Regions from separate parts of the Homo sapiens genome. Here region 2 is linked to region 1. Evidence: fine-mapped expression QTL. Tissue or cell type: stomach. Region 1 holds a variant in brackets; the other region holds the start of a gene. All regions are shown on one strand. Distances are between the middles of the regions.

Evidence for each region. PIP is the estimated chance that this variant, and not a neighbour inherited with it, causes the effect. A credible set is the group of variants that fine-mapping cannot tell apart.
Region 2: it holds the start of DYNLT5, and the variant in region 1 is the best candidate, but not a certain one, in a credible set for the expression of DYNLT5 in stomach (GTEx, PIP 0.57).

The regions. Positions count from the first base shown.
Region 1 is chr1:66,768,473-66,779,354 of GRCh38, forward strand. DYNLT5 (dynein light chain Tctex-type family member 5) reads left to right here. Exons shown (of 5, transcript NM_152665.3): 3 at 1,915-2,006; 4 at 7,807-7,931; 5 at 8,779-10,575. The coding sequence ends at 8,982. Among named protein-coding and RNA genes, the nearest start is that of DYNLT5, 21 kb to the left of the region's middle. The variant G/A (reference allele first, on the strand shown) is at 5,622.
Region 2 is chr1:66,747,455-66,758,336 of GRCh38, forward strand. It overlaps DYNLT5 (dynein light chain Tctex-type family member 5), which reads left to right and starts at 5,005. Exons shown (of 5, transcript NM_152665.3): 1 at 5,005-5,130; 2 at 7,202-7,323. The coding sequence starts at 7,205. SGIP1 (SH3GL interacting endocytic adaptor 1) reads left to right here. Exons shown (of 25, transcript NM_032291.4): 25 at 1-3,685.

The DNA.
Region 1 (10,882 bases):
CTGCAAAACTTTCTATTTGCACACCAATCTTCAACCAGTGGGATTTTTAAGCTGCCCTTATGACATTTACCAGTTTCATAATGATAATAATATTAAGTGCACTGATTGTCAATCTTCAGTAACTGATAGTGAAGACAGTTTATAAAAATCCTTATTTGCTTTTTTGTCTTGGAATTTTCACTCCAGCTAATTTGAGTTTTGTACCACCTCTTCTTCTCCATGAATTTTTAATATGGTGTTCAGTAGAAAAGAAATTGAGTTTTTATGAATACCTTCTGTATTATGCAAGTAAGTTTTAATTGCAGTGATTAATTATTTCATTGTCCCTATTTTCATTCTGTCTGTTATAATCATACTTGGGACTTTGTCACTAAGAGGTAAACAGGACATTTGAAATCTGTCTGCCTTTTATACATGTACATTAAGCCCTTTGCCTCATTCCCTTTATCTCTGAAATGGGTAGAATAATGAATCTTTTACTTACCTCAAAGGATATTGTGAAAGTAAAATGAGATAATTTATGGGAAATGTTTTACAAAGTTAAAAGTAGCATATATAGTAATGGAGCAGACTGACTTATCTTAGAATCAAGGGGTTTATGTAACATTGGGTTTTTTAAGCAGCAGTAATCATCTTTGGTATTGCCCACAACACCTGCAGCCAGTGTGGCCAAACAGGCTGGTTGCTACTTCAAAGGGCAGCAGTAAATTGAGGAAGGCAGGTGTTATAAGAATAAAGATTAAGTCACTCATCCAGAAATCCACCATGAAAAAAGCAGCCAGAATTTCTTCCATCATTTTCTTGGGCTGAGTGGGTAAACCCTAATTTATCATGTAAGTTGTATTGCATTAAAGGATTTTTAAAAATAGATTACCCGTGATTTTCTTAAAATATCGATTTGCAAGAAGTTCATTAATTCCAAACAGCGTAGAACTAAGTATTTTAAATTCCTTGCAAGAAAAAAGATCCCCAAAGATTAAGAGCAAATATCTATTTTTTATTTAATTAAAGCAAAAACATAGCCTGCTTAGAAAAGTGGTCACTCTGAACACACACACACACAAACACACACCCACACACACACACATGCTATTATATCCTCCCCTTTGAAATGACATCTGTCTTAAAGTTCATTTTCACAGGTGGAGAAAATTGAGGGTGCAGCATTCTGAGACTGTCATTAGTTACAGCTGAATTTCCTCTGAACTAAGTTGAATTAAGTAGTGCTGGAGAGACAGTGGGGCCTCCTCTTTGCTTGGGTCTCCTGTTTAGCACCAGGATAAGCTCATATTGCCTTGATAACGAAACCAAAACCCTTTTTCGATGTTGAAAAGGCCGATTGATGCTTATTAATGTATTATAGTTTTGGTGAATTGCGGTTTCCTCTACCACGTAGATGAGTTTCTCATTTTTCTTTTTCATACTAAAGGGATTTTGTGAACTACATATAATAGTGAACTCTTTATAATACTCCATGTGTATATAGAGTTGTCTTCCAACATTTTAAGCTTCCTCATATGTCCCCCAGCCCTGTTTGTGAGCTTTATCTACTTTGAGGAGAGGCTTTATATCAGTGGTGGAGATGCGATTGGCAATGGATTTTGAAGTATGTACTGTTACCCCATACACATACATCAACCCAGGATCGCTTTCTGGATAATTTGATGACCTGGGTAACTGCCCTGGGCTTCAGCCATCACATTGAGACCTGCTCCAAATAATTCCTCTGCATCTTAATATTTCCATCTCTAAAATGTTTTGGACTTTCAATATGCCACTAGGATATTTACATAAGACTTACTTGAAATTTTCTGAGAAAACTTCATCTTTGTAACATTTTAGCTTAAAGCAATATTGTATTTTGTTATTATTGTTATAATAATGACTAAAATTTGTTTTCTCCCTTGTTTTTAGTTCTATGAGTACTGTGTCTTATATGGAAGAACCCAGTCAGCGTGATGATATCTCTCGCCTTACAGTTCAGATGGAAAACACCTATCAGTTGGGTGTGTTCTTTTATCTCTCACTCCTATTTTAAACTTCTAAATTGGTGACTGATTCTCTTAAAAATGATATTTGATAACCTGGCATTGTCTTCAATTCTAGCACAATATAAGGGACTTTAATGAATTGAGTGATTTGATGTTGCTTTAGTTTCTTCCTCAGCAAAAAGGTAACAACACTTGCTGTCTTACTTTTCTTTACTAATGTTTCCCAAATGCCAAACAATTCACTGGGTGGCACTGATGCATACAGTATACTACTGACTTAACAAATTCACTGAGTATTTCTGGGTACATAGATATGACTTAAATGAAAGAGATAAGTATTGATATTTTATCCAACAAAACCAATCAGTGTTGTTAGGTGAAGGAAAAAAAAAAACTCAAAGCAAAGGCAAATGACTCATAGTCCCCTGTTGACAGAGACGTTTATCCATTACCACTGAGGTTTTGAGTCTTTGAAAACAAAGATCTTTGCACCTGCCGCTATACTCCCAGGTGGAGTCCGTGGCAAATATCTTTTCCCATCCATGTTTCCTCATAGACCCACTTGTTTTCTCTAAAAGCGTACCTGCCCACTATTACCTGAATTCATACATAATTACTGCTATATGGAAATTCCACAGAGATTTACCAAGGGGCAAAGAAAGACTCTATGGGCCAAGGTGATTCCATCTGTGGCCAGTTAACCCCAAGAAAATTATAGACCATCAGCCTGTCCCCTCTGGCCTTGTAGCCAGTTTTCTACAGGAGTCCCCAAGACTACATGGATTACACGGCTCCATAATTAGCCAATCTACTGGTATTTTCACAGTGCCTGTGGTGGACAGCTAATATTCCTGCCATCCAATATACTTTTATACTTCTCTGGTAACCTCACTAAATTTCCTTTGAAATTCCACCAACATCACCACTTTTGATCCTAGCATTCTAATGAAGCTGGCACTGGCTTTATAGATAGAGCAGTGACTGATTCTAGGATGGCATATAACCATGGTGAATCCAATCAAAGACTTTGAGATTAAATTCAGAAAATGTTGTTTGGCCTGTTGCAGAAGAACATAAAGCCCTGAAACTTGAAGGAATGTAGGGGCTCTGGCAGGATCTGCCACCTTGCCCTGACTTGAAACTGAGAGAAAACAACAGAATCCTGGTGTCATCATTTGAGTCCTAAATCCAATTGGCTACCCTTTAACTTTTCAGTTAGGCAAGCTAAGTTTGGGTCAGGTTTTCCCTCACTTGCAACTAAAAGTTCTTAGCCATGGGGTGTCTATGACTTTGAACTGTGCATGCTGGAAGGGTTTGAATCAGATTTGAACAAGACAGGGCCAGTGAAATGTGAATCTCTGTGTTTCTACATAAGGATATTTTTTGCAACTTGTTTTCTCAAATAAAGCATCTTATCAGTTTTAGAAGTACTGAGTATGAACCACATTAGAAAAGTAATTTTAGAAAAAGCTTAGTATAGATGAAATATACCTGTATTTTCCTACAATAGTCTATGTGAATTTTTTAATAATTAAAATATTTTATGCTTGACAATTCCCTTTTTATAGCATTCAACCAGCCATTTTATTAATACTTAATCAAAACTGTGTTTCCACTTCTACTTGTTTCTGGGTTTATTTCACATATGAAAGGTATTTTGTGAGTGTATTAGTCCGTTTTTGCATTGCTATAAAGAAATACCTGAGACTGTAATTTATAAAGAAAACAGGTTTATTTGGCTCATGGTTCTAGAGACTATACAGGAAACGTGGTGCCAACATCTGCTTCTGGTAAGACCTCAGTAAGCTTTTAGGCATGGCAGAAGGGAAGGAGAGTTGGCATGTCACATGGCAAGAGAGGGAACAAGAGAGGTGCCAGGCTGTTTTAAACACCCAGCTCTCATGTGAACTAATAGAGGAAGAACTATAGAGCAAGAACTCAGTAATTACCGCTGGGACAGCACCAAGCCATTCATGAGGGATCCACCTTCCTGGCCCCAACACCTCCCACCAGGCCCCACCTCCAACACTGGGGATCACATTTCAATATGAGATTTGAAGGGGACAAATATCCAAACTATATCAGTGGGACTTTGGTAAATAGTTTATCATATCTTTACAATGTAATACTGGCCAGAAAAGTAGAGGGAAATATCAGCCAATCACCAGCACTATTATGTTTAATTAATTTTTCATTCCATTCAATAATGTTTGCCTCATCTAAACACATCTTAAATGAGAGCATTTACATAAATAATTACAGCTACAAAAAATGAGATGAAACATGAGTATCATTCATGAGAGGAGAAAAGGGAATAGAAAAGGAAAGTGTGTTTCTTTTAATAAAATACCATTTATATATTTCTCATTAATTACTAAAACAAATATAAAAGAAAATGCAGGCTGTGGCATCTGTCGTATCTGAATTTGAATACTAATTTTGCTAATTCCTTGAGCAAGGTATTTAGCATCATTGAATCTCAGTGTCTTCACTTGTAAATAGGGATAATAGTCTATACATCACATGGATGCTATGAGACTCAAATGATGTTATATGTTTAAATCTCTCCATTCATCATGTTACTACTCCTGAAAGTGACTGACTCAAGGACCTTACTATAGATCACTAAGAATAAAAGCCTTCCATGATATTCATTGTAACTTCATATTAATTATGGAATAAGTTTTCCACAGGACTTTTTCTGGAACTGAGTATAGTGGCACCTGGTTGTTTGCAAACATGGACTGCGAGCACCGAGCCAAACTAGATTGGCGGCCATCTTTGCTACCACATCAAGACAGCCTGCCTTGAGAATGAAGCCAGCACAGTAGAAAGTAGATCCAAAATATTGAGAGAGAAAGAGAGAGATTATTTGAGTTCAGCTTCCATGAAGTGCTCAGGCCCTGTCTCTATGTCAGGTTTTCTTAGAGCCTGTCAATCTCTCAGCATTGATTTTACACCACCACATGGGGTCCTTCCTAATCCCACAGGCCTCACTGTCTCCAGACTTACGTCCTCTTTCATCTTGCTGCCTTCTCAGCAAGGTAAATCCCCAATTCTTCCTTCAGCATGCAATAACTACAATAACAGCAATAACACTAATAAGATCACATATCTAAGGAGTGTTTTATTGTGTGACAAGCACTGTTCTAAACATATTCAATTTATTGTCTCATTTAATTCTAACAAAAAAAAATGTAGTAATTATTATTATTACCCCAATGTGGGGTAGTGGAGGCCCACATACATTAAGTAAACTTATCTTTATCTACTTTTTAAGGACAAGTTTTGTTTGTTTTTAAAATTTTTTTTGTCTTGATCCTTCAGGTCTTTGCCTTTTGATTTCTAAAACACGTTTTTTCTCCTAAGGAAAAAAAAAATCTCGAGAAAGAAGAAAAGCTTTGCCATTCACATCAGTTTACTCTGAAACTAGTTTTAGGAGCTTATTTCAGAAGTCAGAAACTGAACATTGATGGATGATTCTGGATGTTTAGGGGAAAGGTAACAAAGAAGTAAGAAAAGAATACTTCATTACCATATTTCAAAGTATTTTCAAAACAGGATCTGGTTAATGACTTTTTTTTTAATCTAAGCGAAGTATGGAAAGGACATTGGTAGCACTGTACAACG[G/A]GAACTACTGGAAACAGACTCAAGTGCCACCAGGACCCTCTTTCCAGCACTAACCTATGTGCACTTTCTTCTCTTTTGGTGGCCTGGCCTCCTTACCACCATGAAAAACATGTCCTCCAGCAGGTCCTCAGAGTCACATGGTAACTTTTGCCACCAGAAAGAGGCTGACTCTTTTTTCCTACTTGCAGTTTAAAATAAAAATTCCAAAAAAAGACTCTCATTGTCCTGGCCTAGAGCATTGTCACCCTGGGTTAATCAACCATGCCCTAGGCTTGGGTTCGCAGGAGATGATGGGGAGATCTTTAAGAACCACTTTCTAGATTCAATCTCCACCCCCACCCTTCCACGATTTAAGTGGAATTCAACAATTTCTATATTATCATCAAAATAAAAATAACGATTTATAGAACCTCAAGAGGCTCACCTAACTGAACTGCAGTCAGAGGCTGTAACCTTCTGGTTAAGTTCAGCCAGTGGGAAACCTCAGCTGAGAGGCAGAGGGAGTGAGAAGTGTGAGGTGGAGCTGTTTATTTCCCTGGCTCCTGCCTGTGAGTTCATCACAGCCTGGTTACATTCTTCAACCAAAGGACAGAAACTGCTCCCAAGGGAGCCCTCTCCACATGACCCTTCTGGGATCTATTAAAAGCTCTTCCTCTATTCCCCAATCTTGGGGTGGGAGGGGTGGGCTGACAACCTTACTTTCACTGGCTGAGGGGTGCTGCACTATCCCTTGTGATTTTCTACAGCCCACTCAGAACTTCCTCCTGGAATTATTTTAACTATAGGGTGCCATATGTTTCATTTGACCCTGACAGATACAGTCATCACAAACAAACACTTATTACTAGATATTGACATATATTAAAAGAGAATTGAATAGAATTCTTGATCTCATTCCTTCATCTTTATCAATTCAACAAATAATGACTGGGCTTCTGTATGCCAGGCCCTGGGCACATGTTCATGTCATGCAATGACATTAGTATATGACCAAAGTGATGATATGGCTAATATTCCTGGGATGCAGGAGGAAGAAGATTCATTTGAAGCTTCTCCTCTGAACGTGGATGAAATGTGGTCGAGAATATAAGCTCTAGCATCAGATAAACCTGGGTGTGCACCCCAGCTCTGCCTCTCTGTGTGATTCTGGGCAGGTTACTCAATGTATATAAATCTCTGTTTCCCCACCTGCCAAATGGAGATAACAGTGAGATTCACCTCAGAGATCTATTGGAAGACTATATAAGGTAATATGAAGTGCTTATCGCACTGCCTGACATGTAGCAACGGCTTAATAAAAAGTATTCATTATTATATATGTATACAATATACAGTCATATATCATATATAATGATTATCTATAAAATTTAATTCTATTTAAATTCAGAAATCATACATTAAAAATTTCTTATGCCTTTAGCATTGTATTAGACTCTGAGGAGGATAAAATCCGAGCTTGCTTACCATTTCACTGGAAACGCAGGTATGCTTTAGCCAATATCAAGTGGATTAGGAGCCAGGATGGCAGTGGGGACCCAGTGCATGGAAAGGAGGGACATTTTTACCTGAGAGGAGGTAGAGTGCTACCTGGAGAAGAAGACATTTGAGATGGTCTTGAAACATGAGTGGCTGTTTCTCAGATGAACAAGATGGGGAAAGATATTCCATTTGAAAACTAAAGAGCAAGAGTAAGGACACAGGAGCACCTTTATAGACAGATGGAGCCTGTGAGGCTGGAGCAGTCCACAAGAGGGGCACTGTGGTAGCGGGAGAAGGGGCAGTAGGGAATCACACTTTAGACCTCGCTAAGGGGAATGTCATTTAAGATCTGGTAGATAGATTGGAGCGGGAGATATAAGAGGTAGAGAGCCAGTTATAAAGTTGTTGAGACTTTGAAGTATGTCCACAACAATGGGGCCTGGGAAGGAAGAGACTTTCAAGGTCAAACCCCAGCAGTATTGAACACACTTTTGAGATAGTCACGTAAATGTACGAAAATATTGTCTTCTTGTTCTCTCTCAGAGCACTTGACAGGAAACCTAATTAGAGCCACTTGTTTCTTTCAATAGAGTCCACCCAGAAGATTAAATCCCTCCATGTTTCCATACTCTTTTGATTAGCCTATGGGGTGGGTGGGTGTGATTTGAAATTACTTTTTAGAAATAAATTTTATGTGTATTTTCAGGTCCTCCCAAACATTTTCCTGTGGTCACCGTCAATCATATTTTGAAAGATGTAGTAACCAGCTATCTACAAGTAGAAGAATATGAACCAGAGCTCTGTAGACAGATGACTAAAACCATTTCTGAGGTACGTGTGTGATTTGCCCAAAGTGTTAACAATAGCTAGAATATTTGCTAAAGTACAACGGACCCTCTACTTTTTTGATGAGGGGAATTAATTTGCAGTAACAGTTAAAATGCGTATTTATAATTAGGTCATATTCTACATATATGTGTGTGTGTGGGTGTGTGTGTGTGTGTGTATATACATAAAGCCTTTGTCTAAAACAATCATGAGCATCATTTGCATGCATTATGTAAAAGTGTATAAAACTGCCCCATTTATAAAAGTGTTTATTGTAAAAGATACAACATTTTAATGATTATTTTCTCTTCACTAAGGCAGCTTCTTTGAGTGCCATCAAATACAGACATTGTGGTCTTCAAGCACATTTCTATTTTTACAAACCCCAGGGCTGCACTTCATCAAGGTTTCCTCTACTTTCTTTTTGATAACAAACTCTTTAATAAACATTAATGATTAGTTATATTACAGGAGACTCCAGATGTATGGTTTCTTAATTAGACATGAACAAGACAGTGTAACTCCAATGCCAACATTCTTTGACATGAAGCCATCTTAACATAAATTTTCAAAGAATGTAATTTATTAAATTCTGTGTTCTGGATTATAATTATTTCATGTATCTTAGAAAAGGTTGATTTATTGCTGGTGTTAAAATTTTGTTCCTGAATGTTCTATCTCAAGGGGACCATGCTTGAAGGGAATCATACTTACGGTTCTAAAACAATCACTGAAAGTATCTACAATGCATCATGCTATTAAATTAAATCCCTTATATTTATAACAAAGGTTAATGCTTTTGAGTTTCAATGTAGCTGAATGAAGACCCTCCCTTTTTTTAAATTTCTAGGTTATTAAAGCCCAGGTCAAGGACTTGATGATTCCACGGTATAAACTAATTGTGATTGTTCACATTGGACAACTGAACAGGCAGAGCATACTTATTGGAAGCAGATGCCTCTGGGATCCTAAAAGTGATACCTTTTCATCTTATGTTTTCAGAAATTCTTCTCTCTTCGCTCTTGCAAATGTCTATGCAGTTTACCTTGAGTGATTGAAAATAAGAAATCTAGCTCTTACTTTTGAAAATTCTGAGGCAGGCTGTATGTCTGTACACAAAAGTTTTACTGCCAAAAACTTTGAGAAAGAAACAACACTGATATTTCAAGCAACTGGAAGCTTTTGAATTTTTTCATATTCTAGTAAAGATTTGGGGAGGGGAGGGTAGCCACAGAAAGAATCTTGTTTATCTAAAGCAGGAACTTGATCTTGGTTTTGCTGGATTGCTTTCCATAGACATAGATTCTTATTAAATATTTGTTTTGGTACTAATTATTTTAATTATTCTTTAATTAGAGTGTTACAATTTCCTGCATTGTTTTTTAATAAAAAGAAGCTTTAGAAAAACTATGGCTATATACCCTGACCAATAAATGATAGTAGAATATTCAACATGGTATACACAAATGATAAATAATGTGCCTCAGTGCTGCATATAAAAGAATACTGGTTTTCATTTTGTACTTAATAAATTGAGCAGCATTCATTAAGTGCAATTATTGTTACATGTACCTGACAGTTGAAACTGCTGAGGTAGAATTAATGGCTTCATAACAATTATCGTGGTCCCACGGGCTGCAAGCTAAAACTAGAAGCTCTTGTGGCTTGCCTGCACTTTACACAATTGTGGGAGAACCGAAAGTTGGCTCTTCAGTAATGGAAACTATAAAGTGAATAAAGGCTTTTTGGGACACTGAAGTAGACATTGTGATATTAAATATACATGATGCTTAATACTAAATGTGTCTGTAACACATAAAATCATTTATTGGAAAGAGACATTGCTTTTAAATATCCTAGGCTAACAAACTTTTTCACAAAATATATGGCTGGCACCTTAACAAATAAAGCATGTGTAGTTACCATTTTACTCCTATGAATTTAATACTAAAGTGACCCAGTGAGGTTTTTGAATAGACGGGTGCTAAAATTTACAGGGCTGAAATAGCTTATTATTCTGCTGGTTAATGTATCTTACGCCACGGATCATTTATTTTTATGAAGCTTTCAAGTCTTTGTGTGCAAGTAAAATGATGTTGTGGCGTTGTTCTTGGATGGTAAGTGGACTGCCTAGAGGACATTTGTTAAAGGTCAAAGACAAATTGTACACATATGGAGAAAATTAGCAATGCTGTAGTCTTAAGGAAAAAATGATTTATCATTCATATCAAAAAGAGTTTAGCAAATGGAAAACCAGTTAATGCTTTAATTTTAAAATGTTTTGGTGTCTTACTTTTCCCTAAAAATGACATGTAGTAAAAAATGGATACTTTTAAAATCCCTTCCCTTCTGCTATTTTCTGGCTTTTAAAGTGATTATTCAAAATGAATTTGTCAATTTTCACTTTTTTTTTTCTGTTAGTGCATTAGTGGGAATATGTCTATGTAATAATTTATCACAACCAATATTTGTCAATCTCCATAGAACAGTTTTCAATCTGGATTAGATTACACGTATAACAAGTAAATGAGCTTCATATTTTCATTACACATTGGTGAACATCTCCCTTCGTGGAACAACAGCGGGGGTAATCATATCACTAATTTTGTATGAATAAATGAAAATGAAGAAACTTCTTTAACATATACAAAGTCTATTGTAACAATGACTGTTTGTTTTAGAGTTCTAAATTCTAATCCATGAGATAATTTCTTACTGTCTTCCCCAGGCTGTGTTGAGAATCGAAACTGCAAAACATGACGGCAGTTAAAAAACAAAAAAGAAAGCAGTTTGCCAGCATATTGCTACACACTGTAATTCAGATACTCAGTGATGAATTCTAGCAATTATATAGCAGTATAAGAATACATAGTAAAAACTCACTCCTTGCAACTAACTTGGGAGAAGCTAGTTATCACACAGAACTTTATCATGAGAAATTTTTAATGAAATTA
Region 2 (10,882 bases), 21 kb before region 1:
TAGCCTGAAATGCATTTTCTCATTTTCATATTTCTGTCCTTTTCTTCAATGTCTTAAAAGACTTGAAGTAGAAGGGAAGTTGCAAGCTGTTATTTATTCAAATACAAAATCCTAATCAATGTTTCCTTCTTTGCAAGGGACATTCAGATCTCTAACTTGTGAGTTGAACCTATTTATTTTGTAAGCTTTTGACTTTACAAACATGTGGTAGCCTCATTCTAAAAGAGTTGCACGAATATTTTTTCTCAAAATAACCACAGGCTGTAAATTAAATTGAACAATACAGTAGAATATGCAGATACATACTAAACAGATGAGTGTGTGTGTATGTGTCTGTGTTTAAGCTTTTCCTTTTCCAAAAGATTATACATTTGAGCAAAATCCCATTCAGTCTAAATGTACTCATTTTGCCACATGGTTTTCTGATCAGCAATTTTTTTAAAAAATGGAAGTGTTACATTATATTTAATAATATCAAAACAAGAGTGATCTCTAAATATAGCTTTGAAAGTTAATATAATATGATGTGTCCATGCAATGAGTCAAATTAGATTGTTGATATAAATGAACAAATCAATCCAAGTTACATTGATTAAAGGGACTATTTGGATGACCAGCCTCACCATCTTTTACTGTGTGCACTTTCCTCTTAAGGTTTTATTGTATTTTCCCTGCTCCTTTAGGCTTTTTTTTCATGTGGAAAACAGTATCTAAATGCCATTCTCTCACTTATGAATTAAATATGGCTACCATTAATGTTCCTTTTTGTCAGTGGAGTGTATGGAAGGAAAATGAGATAGGAGTACATTGCTTAAGTCTCTAAATATTAAAAACAACAACAAAACACTTGCCTTTCTCTTGTGTCATTGCTTCAATGTTCTGTCATCTTCTGCAAGCTAGAGTTGCACTGCTGACATCTAATTAAGATCTAAATATATTTCATGAAGGAATGTCAAATGTAAAGTCTGTTGAGTTGACCATGGTGAACCTCTTGATTGGCCCTCACATTTAATATCTGATTTCTCTCCTAAATGGGTATGTCTATGAGGAAAAGACACCTATTTGTTGGCATTGACCATGGGTATAATAATTTATTCTCTAGGTTTAACTTCTAAAATTATTTTTCCTTTGATTTCTAACTGCCTCCTTCTATCCCTAGAGTAATACCTTGCCTACCTTAAATACATCTTTATCCTTGTAAAAAATGTTTTGGCAAAAAACAAATATATTTTTAAATGTCCCGTAATGTTTTAAAGAAAAGAAGTAAAGTGTATTTGGGCTATGCTCACCAATATTCCAGTATTTTACAAATTGTGTTCTGGAAGATGTTCATTGTGGTCTGAGAACAAATGGTCCTATACTATAATTCTCTCTCCTTGGACATTGACAATAAATGTTAGTGTTTTAATGAAGCTTAAGAAAGTTATTGAATCAGGTAAAAAAAATTTTTTCTAAGCACACCTTGAGAAACCTTTGGAAAAGTTTTCTTTTAACACTAGTTTATATATCCTTCAATAATTGTAAATAAAATAACCAGGAATGCTTTGAAAAAAATGCTTCTGGAATTTTGTTTTAATTTTAAGAGAATTCCTGTCATTTCAAATGAATTGTTATCTATTTTAAATTTCATTAGTATCTCTTAGTGAATTTAACTTTATCATCTAAAATATTCAAAACAAAACAATAAAATTATTTTAATTTTTGTATTATTTTTAAGGCTTGCACCTATGACCAGCATATCAGACCCCTATCTGTTGAAGATGTTTCCAATTCTTTGCCGTGTGGAATTAATGCCAGTGAATAATCTCCAGTAACGTTTTACTAAACAGCTTTAGGAAACTGAATCATGATAGATCAATGTTGACAGTATTTTTACATCAGCTTGTCAGAAATTATATTAAAAACACTTTGGGGAAAGCTAAGAGCAGTGCACTGTTTAGCACAGATTTTGTGAGATTCTATACTCTTTTAATGAGCATTTCATAGGGTTTTTTTTTTGCTGTTTTTTTTTCTTTTTTTGCTTTGCTTTACTTTGCCAATCAGTTACTTTTATACCAAATTAACGAAGTTTCTTTAAAAACTTCCTGGTTAAATTGTCTGTTATCATATAGAAAAGAATCAAACTGAATCACTTTACATTTCTCTAAAGATAGTTCAGTTTTTAATCCATCCAGAGTTTGTGAATCAGCCTGATAGATCATAAGCCATTTATAATTTTTAAACGTTCCATTGAATGAGTATATCATACAAATGTTAATTCCATCTCGCTCATTCAGTTTTACATTACTTTTATGAATTTTTTTTCTCGCAAAGTAAATGCTTGATGTTATTCATTCACCATCACTCTAAGGTATTTTAAATCATACAACAAGTAACTATCACAAGAACCACTGTCCCAAGATCCAAAGTCAGATTTTTTTCCCTTTTCAAGTTGCTAGAATGATAATTCATATAGCTGTGTTGATTTTTCAGGTCAGAATTTAGTTCTTGCTTTGTTAAATGGACATACATGAAAGAGATTGGCTCCTATCTAATTCATATTCTCTCTCTCTCTCTCTCTCTTTCTCTGTGTGTGTGTGGGGGTGTGTGTGTGTGTGTGTGTGTGTGTGTGTGTCTCTTTCCTCTCTGTCTAAGGGGAATTGGAAAATTGCTGCTGAATAATTTTTCTTGAAAAAGCCAAGTGTTGATATGATGATATATTAATCTTATCTATGAACAGAGCTTCACCACAGGCCAAGCAGTAATGTATACAGCTGGCTTTTTAAGCTGTTTGAACACTATTGTTTTCGATTAAAAAGAGTTTTTGTTTGTTTTTCACTTGTATAGTAAAAGATCATATGAATTAAATACTCGGATATTAATTTTCATTCTTACTAAGTGGCCATGTAAGGCATTGATTTTTTTTAAACTTGAACAATGCAAGAATCTAGGAATCTCAGAAAGATTTTGCTGTGTTTCTATAGGTAATGAAATCCTGTCAATTAAGGAAAATGCTGTGTGTAATTTGATTTGGTGGTAGCCTTTATTTAGAGCTCTCTTTGATCTATGTAGCAAAAATACACTAAATTTCTTTTTAATCTTGTACTAAGTACATAATTTCACAAAAATACCTTGGGCATAAAATACTTACAAAACTGTGAATTAAAATACTCAAGATACTTTCAAAATTTAGTCAAAATGTTGATTCCCAGCCTTTTTCCTACACGTCTATTTCAAAAGAGTATACTTTTTTCTGACAGCCATTACTGCTTAGTCTGTAATGAAAGCTTTACTGCTTCTATGCTGTGCTCAAGAGAAAACCAACAACGGAAGCGAAGACTTACTTGCTCCTTCACAGAATTGCAGCAAAGCTCTCTGCTGGGCAATGGTGACAGGAAAGTGTGTAATTGACTTGTTGAAGATAATCATGAGACCATCTTAACATTACTTGCCTTATAAGTTAGAAATAGTATGGATATCACTCTTTGTAAATAATAATTTTTGTAAATGTTTTTTGTTCATAATTTTCCCAATCACCTATTTCACAAAATCCTGAATATGCAATTATTTATTATGACACGTTACTGCAACTAGGGCTCCCATTCCAGAACAAAGTTTAATTCTATATGTAAGTTGTTACTGAAATGTGATTTCTTTTTCTGGAAAATAAATGAAAAATATGAAAATAAATTGAATTGTGAATATCTTTTGCTGTCAGCCTCTTAAAATTTTACCCGCATTTCTGGAAAACTTCATTCCATGTTTAGGGTAGGGATGGTGGGCCAAAGGTCTGTCAAAGGTCAAGGGTTAAGAGTTAGACAAATTTCAGCTCTGTGATTTAAATATCGACTTGAGCATGTTACTCAACGATTCTACATTTCCTTATCTTAAAAAAAAATAGAGTAATGTCCCCTATGTCATAGTCACTGAACAAATTCAATGAGATAATGTTTATTCATCACCTAGCAGTTCCTATCTAGTCCATAGTAGATATTCAATCAACAATCCTTTCCTGTTCTTATCTTTCTGTGAGTAGAGATTGGGATGGGCAAAAATATCTATTTCTCTTCTTCCAACACTATCCTAACACTGTGCTCCACCGGAATCCCAATGTATTACTGTCAGCTAATGCTAATTCCAGCAGGACACTCATCAAGAGCCATGCCCTTGGCTAGATGCTTGGAGGCATCTTGTTTCTGCTTCCAATGATTGCCCACTACAGGAGGGTCCCTATAGTGTTTATTTTGTTTGCTTTTGGTTTGGGGAGGCCCAAACCAGGCTTAGGCTGGGGATAGTCGCTGAAGAAGAGGAAAAGCCCATTCATACCAGCAGGTAGGTCCTCAACCCCAAACAGCCTCATTTCAAAGCTTCTTAGACATTAACAGGCTCAGAAGAGTCTTGTTAAGGAAAGCGAAGGAACCCAGCCCGGTTTGTAACACATTGGAGTTAAGACCATGAGTTTCAGGGGCCTTGGGCATATTATTTAACATTTTAGAATCTCAATTTTCCAAATCCTTTAAAGGGAAAACATTCCTTTCTTGACAGAGTTATTGGGACGACTAAATCCCAATGTTTGTCGGTATCTGGGGTATCTGGCCAATGTAAGTGCTCATTTACCTCCACATTCCACCGCCTGTGCCTTGGAGGGGGAACGTGCGAAGCAGCGTTAGGAGCCGGGAAAAGGGCAGGGCTACTTTACTTTGTCTTTGCGCTTCGGATTTCCTGTGCTAGGAAACCGCAGCACTTCCCACTCCTGCCCCTGATGTCTGCGGGAAAAGGAACTTGATGAGGGGCCCTAGGGGTGCAAATGTCTTTAGTCCCAAATGTCTTCCTCGCTACACAATGAACCAGTTCCCCTCCAGCTCGCCGCCAACCCAGGACGCAGCCCGGCTCAGAGTGACCCCCAGTGGGCAGTGAAGATGAGATCCTCTACATCCTTAGGGCAGCTCAGAGGGCCACTCAGCGGCCAAGTCCGGCCGGGGAGGGCCGAGGGCTCTGTTTGAGGTCACCCTGGAGACCGGCCTCAGAGTCCAGGGAGAGTGCGCGGGCGGCCGCCGGCTGAATGAAGCCTGGGACGCGGGAGCCGCGCCGCGCGCAGTGTCTGCAGTGCCGGAGGTCTGGGAGGCTCCGGGCGAAGCCTCCCTGCTGCAGGTAGGGTCGCCTCTCTCTGCAGCGCGTCTGGACCCCAAAGGAAGGATAGGGGGCAAGGGATCGGCCCTTTGTTGAGAAATGGCCCTACTTGGCCCCGATCTCTCCGCCACCTTATTCCTCCTCTCCCCAACACATAAGAAAAAATGATCCCAAATTTGGGAACTGAAAGTCGGTCCCAACGGTTCGTCCCCTGCCCCATTGCATGGCTGGGGGCTGGGCTTCAAGAGTGATGGCCAACGCAGAGCCGGCCAGCAAGGTCATCCCCTGACCCGGGGCGGTCTTCCTGTGGCTGGCCGCACCCATGAGGACCTCCAGGTCCCAACTCTGGCCTTTCTTGGGGAGGGGGCGGCCTGCAGGGCAGCTTTGGAAACAGCTGAGGCCGAGATGGGTCTATGTGGCTTTGCAGCAAAACCTGAATGACCCACCTAATCAGGCTGTGTGTCTTTCCACACTCATAAACACACTCACCTTCGTACACACGAACACAGACACACTTATACACACAGGCACCTGCACACACAGAGATGCACACTCACAGGTACACACTCAAGGACGCTCACACTCACGTGCACACACACACCACGCTGCCTGCCTCACCCACACACAGCACCTCTGCTCTGACATTGATGCCACTGGGTTTTAGGGTATGTTCTTGTGTGCCCTACCTACTCAACTGCCAGCTCCTTGAAGGCATGGATTCTCTTCTATTTTTATGCTTTGGTGTCTAGCACAGTATTTCCTTATCGGGGCTCTCACATTTATAGATTATGAAATAATTTAAATGAATACTTAAATTTGTAGGTAGACAATGAGGGCATTATTAGAGTTATAGTCCAAGTTCTGGGAAGTCCATTGCTACTACCAGCTTTTTAACAAGTATTAGTAGGAAGGAGGGAGTTTTCCAATAAATTATTTATTTAAAAGTTAAGTCCTATTTGCTCTTTACAAACTATGTAAATGTTGCTCGAGAAAACAAAACAAACAACAAAAAATCTTTGGGAAAGCAAGGTTAATTTTAATTTTTATTTATTTATTTATTTTCTAGCTCCCTACCCCTAATTTTATTTTTTAAAGTCATGGTGGGTCAGGCACAGTGGTTGATGCCTGTAATTCCAGCACTTTGGGAGGCCAAGGCAGGAGGATCACTTAAGGCCAGGAGATTAAGGCCAGCCTGGGCAACACAGAAAGATCTTGTCTCTACAAAAATGTTTAAAAATTAGCTAGGCATGGTGGTGCAGGCCTGTAGTCCTAGCTACTAGGGAGGCTGAGGTGGGTGGACCGCTTGAGCCCAGGAGTTTGAAGTTACGGTGAGCTATGATCATGCCACTGCACTCCAGCCTGGGTAACAAGAGCTAGATCCTGTCTCTAAAATAATAAAATAGGCCAGGTAGAGTGGCTCATGCCTGTAATCCCAGCACTTTGGGAGGCTGAAGCAGGATTGCTTGATCCCAGGAGTTCAAGACCAGCCTGGGCAACATAGACCCTATCTCTACAAAAAATTAAAAATTAGCCCAGCTTGATGGCATACACCTGCAGTCCCAGCTACTCAGGTGGCTGAGTTGGGAGGAACGCTTGAGCCCAGGTGTTTGGGGCAGTAGTGAGCCATGATCATGCCACTGCACTCCAACCTGGGTGACAGAACAAGACCCTGTCTCAAAAATAAAATATAACAGTGACAGCAAATATTAATTAGCAAAGTTGTATTATGGTTACATTTGGGGGGCAATACAAATATTGGTTTCTGATGTAGGATAGCATCTTTCTGCTATACATGCATATCTTTTGTCAATGACCTCCGTCTTCATCAGCTAAGCATTTTTGCTATAGCTTAATATCTGCTTATGTAAATAATTATACTATTGCATAAATAAGCATTTTCAGAGTTATCATAGTTCCAGTTTCACTGATCAGAATAACAACAAATTCTATATATTGCTCTTGAGGAAACCCCACTTTCCTGTTCAAAAATGGTAGGAAAACTATCTGTGTACTTTGAGATTAGTCCCTGTTATACTAACTAAAATGTTTCCGGATCTTTCTTTTGCTATTTTACAAAAGTCTTCTTCCATAGGTTATGATGATGTCAGACAATGCTAAAGGCAGAGCAGCTCATTCATGGAAGAAAAGAGGGAGTATTTCTTCTCTAAGTAATCATGAATTTTGGCGAAAGGAAATTCATGGGCGCATCAAAGAGTGAGTAACTGTCTAAAATTGTAAATTCATTTATTGAATAAATAGGTTCGTAATGTTTATTAGGAGAAAAAAACACTTCCTCGGGGACATAAAAAGAGATAAAATGGGCAAGTACAAGGTGCAGGTCATCTTTAGGGGCCATATTTAAAAAGAAAGAGAAAGAGAGAAAGCTTAAGTGATAAGTTAATCCTAGCAGCATTTTTGCTATTTCAAAAATCATCCCAAAAAACCCTCTGCTCAAAAGAAACACCACATGCAATGTAAACCAGACACGCTTATATGTCTTTTGAGTTCTTCTCCTCAATATTTTATAACATAGGTTTTGCATTTTTGTAATCAATACATACATATACAATGTACTTAACATTATTGTATATAATTTTGTCATGTATTTTCATAGTTTTTTCCATATCCTCTTAAATGACTGCATAATATTTTGTCAATTTATGATTCTGGGTTCCTTAACCATTCTCTAATTATTGGACACTTTAAGTTTGTTTCCATTTTTTTTCTTTTTTACTATATGTCTGTGCTTGGTCATTTCCCAGAAGAATAATTAGTAGGTCAAAGGGCAATAAGTAGATTTTTTGGTTCTTGCTACATGTTGCATCTTCTCTCCTAAAGATATACATCAATTTTTAATATTTTCATGGCATTTCCTTTTGACTGCTGTTGGGAAGAAAACAAAACAAATTATCGACGTAGCAGTCAATTAATAATAGACTTTCGTTCTTAGTTTCTATAGCTTTGGAGGATGTTGTATATTGAGTATATATTGGGAAGCAGGAGCTAGGGTGTCCTGCAGAACAGAGAGTAGAAGAACTGGAATAATTAGAATTCTGAAACCAAAATCTTTCTATTCTCAGAGTGTATTAATGCCTACTTGCAACTCCACATTCCAGCCCTGGAAGTCTGTGGATTACACATACAATGCCTTTTACAGGTGGGAAACTGACTATAAAGGAGTAGCAATCCCAGCACATGTCAGAAGTAAAGGTGGGAGAATGATTAATCTTTGTAATTTTTGCTTCTAAACTTTTCTGGCTGCTATTTCCAATAGTTAAGTGCAAGGGTTATTTTTTAAATTATTTAAAACTGATTGTTGGCTTAAATTCAACTTACGTTTTCCAAGAAACTATTTAAGTAATAGTCTGACATAAATTACGTACCCATGATATTTTTTTAAATACTGTCTCCAAAGATTAAATTGTAATTCCTATTTGCATGACTTTTACTTATCTTTTCCCCTTCAAAACAAATTTGTCATATAGAATCAGAGTGTGGCTACATTTGAAGAATTAGAGATCACTCTTTTTAACCTATTATTGATGAATATAAATACATATTAAAAATAAGAATACAAAAATCATATTTATCAACACATTAGGATAGATTTTTCACTGACAACTACATTTAAATGATAACTATTTTGGTTTTGGACTCCCAAACAAAACATTTAGAATGGAACCTCTATTTGTACTTTTTTTCTTAAATAGCAAATGATCAGCTTCCAAGTCCCCTTGCAATGCAGACTATTTAGGAGGCTCCCCCACCCCATGCTAACTTGTATTAATACTTGCTTTCCATTGGCTTCCTCACTGTCTGGAATTAGACAGTACAAGTTATTCTCCTTCATGAATGAGGCTTCAACTAGTAGAAAAATTCTGAAAGCTTAGTGACTATCAAATACAGGCATTGTTTTGAAATTGCAGTGTTTTATGGAAAAACATATAACTTTCATTTGAAAATTACTTTAAAACAATTTTGAAAATATAAATTTCAATAATGTAAAACATTCTGAAGTTTATTAAGGACTGAATACATTATCTCACTGAATCTCCCCCGCATTAATCCTACTAGGTAGGCATCATTTCTACCACTTTACTATGAAATAACTAAAGTTTACAGGTCAAGTAATTTGACTTAATGATTAGGATACAGTCCCAAATCCTGACTATGAGATACAAAGTCCACAGACCCCTATCTACTTCCATAGCACCATCTTCCCCACCATCTTGCGGGCATCATCCCCTCCAGCTATACTCAGTTATTCCTCAGTGCTCTATCTGGCCCCCAGCCATTGCCCCATGTTGCTTCCCCATGGGGTACCCCGACTCCTTGCCTGCAATGCTCTTCTTACACTATTCCCCTGGCTTTCTTCACTTCTTCCATCAGAATTTCGCTCCATCTCCACCTTTTTGGGAAGTGCTCTCTAATTACTCATCTATGACCACCTTTACCTCCAGACTGCATTGGATGATCTGCCTTTCTTCTCCTACTGCTTTTGCCTTCGATATGCACTATATTTGGTGATTTGCTTGTCTATCTCTTTCAACAGACTATGGACTTATTTGTCTTTTTAGCGGTAACCACACTTATAAGGAGGACATGAAGAGTAAAGGTAGACCTCCTTGAAAAGCTGCTTCTTATATGTGGTATAAGATCAGCACAGATTTAGCCCTACAGTCTTGGTTTCCATGTCTACAGTCTTCCACAGTTGTAACTAATGCTTAACAATGATCCCCAGACAGAATAAATATCTGAAATGCCTTCTGAATTACAAAAAGAAGATTAAATTTATATTAAATATTATTGTGAACTGTTTTCAAGATTGGGTCTGTTTTTAAGTTATCTTTTCAATTTAATGTAATTTTTATGTTTTATTAAAGAAAAAACAGAAACATCTTAAGCTGGATCTTATTATCCTAACTGTTAGTGTGTTGGCATATTTCTGTTAGACCTGGACATACATATATCAGACCCATGCTGTCTGAGTCCAGACAGTACACTACACAGTGGTCATCATACTCCATCTGTAATTTCAAATTATTTTTTACCTGAACAATTTATAATAATAAGGATGATAATAGCTAACATTTATAGGGCCCTTGCGATGAACCTTATTTATGTATCATAGAAGCTCCATAATAGGAGTTGGCAAACTATGACCCAAGGGCCTATTCCAATCTGCATCTGTTTTGCTAAATACGATTTTTACATAGGTGAAAAAAATCAAAAGGGGAACAGTTTTTTTTGCAGCATGTAAAAATAACAAGAAATTCAAATCTCTATATGCATAAAGTTTATTAGGACACAGCCATTCCTATTCACTTGTGCGTTGTCTCTGGCCACTTTCGCACTGTAACAGCAGAGTTGAGTAGTTACAATAGAAACCGTAGGGCCTGCAAATCCAAAAATATCTGCTATTTGGCCTTTTACAGAAATGTTTGCCAACTCCTGCTCTATAAAGATAGATGTTATTATCTCCCCCATTCGACAAATGAAGAAGCAGAAGCTTAGAGAGATTGAGGCTCCAAAGCTACAGAATTAACAAGCAGCAAAAATGGGCTTTTGTTTATTAGTTGAGTATTTTCATTTCCTGAAAATTGGCAATCCATGTGTGATTTGCATTAATAAAACTATTCTGTTCATTCACCAGAACCTTCTGTTTCCCGTCCACAGTAAGAGCAGGTCTTTACAATTACATCTTTCTTATTGGAAGCTCAGACTTTGGCAGACACTGAACAGTGTTTGAACAGATGTGCTTCTCTCATTTCCT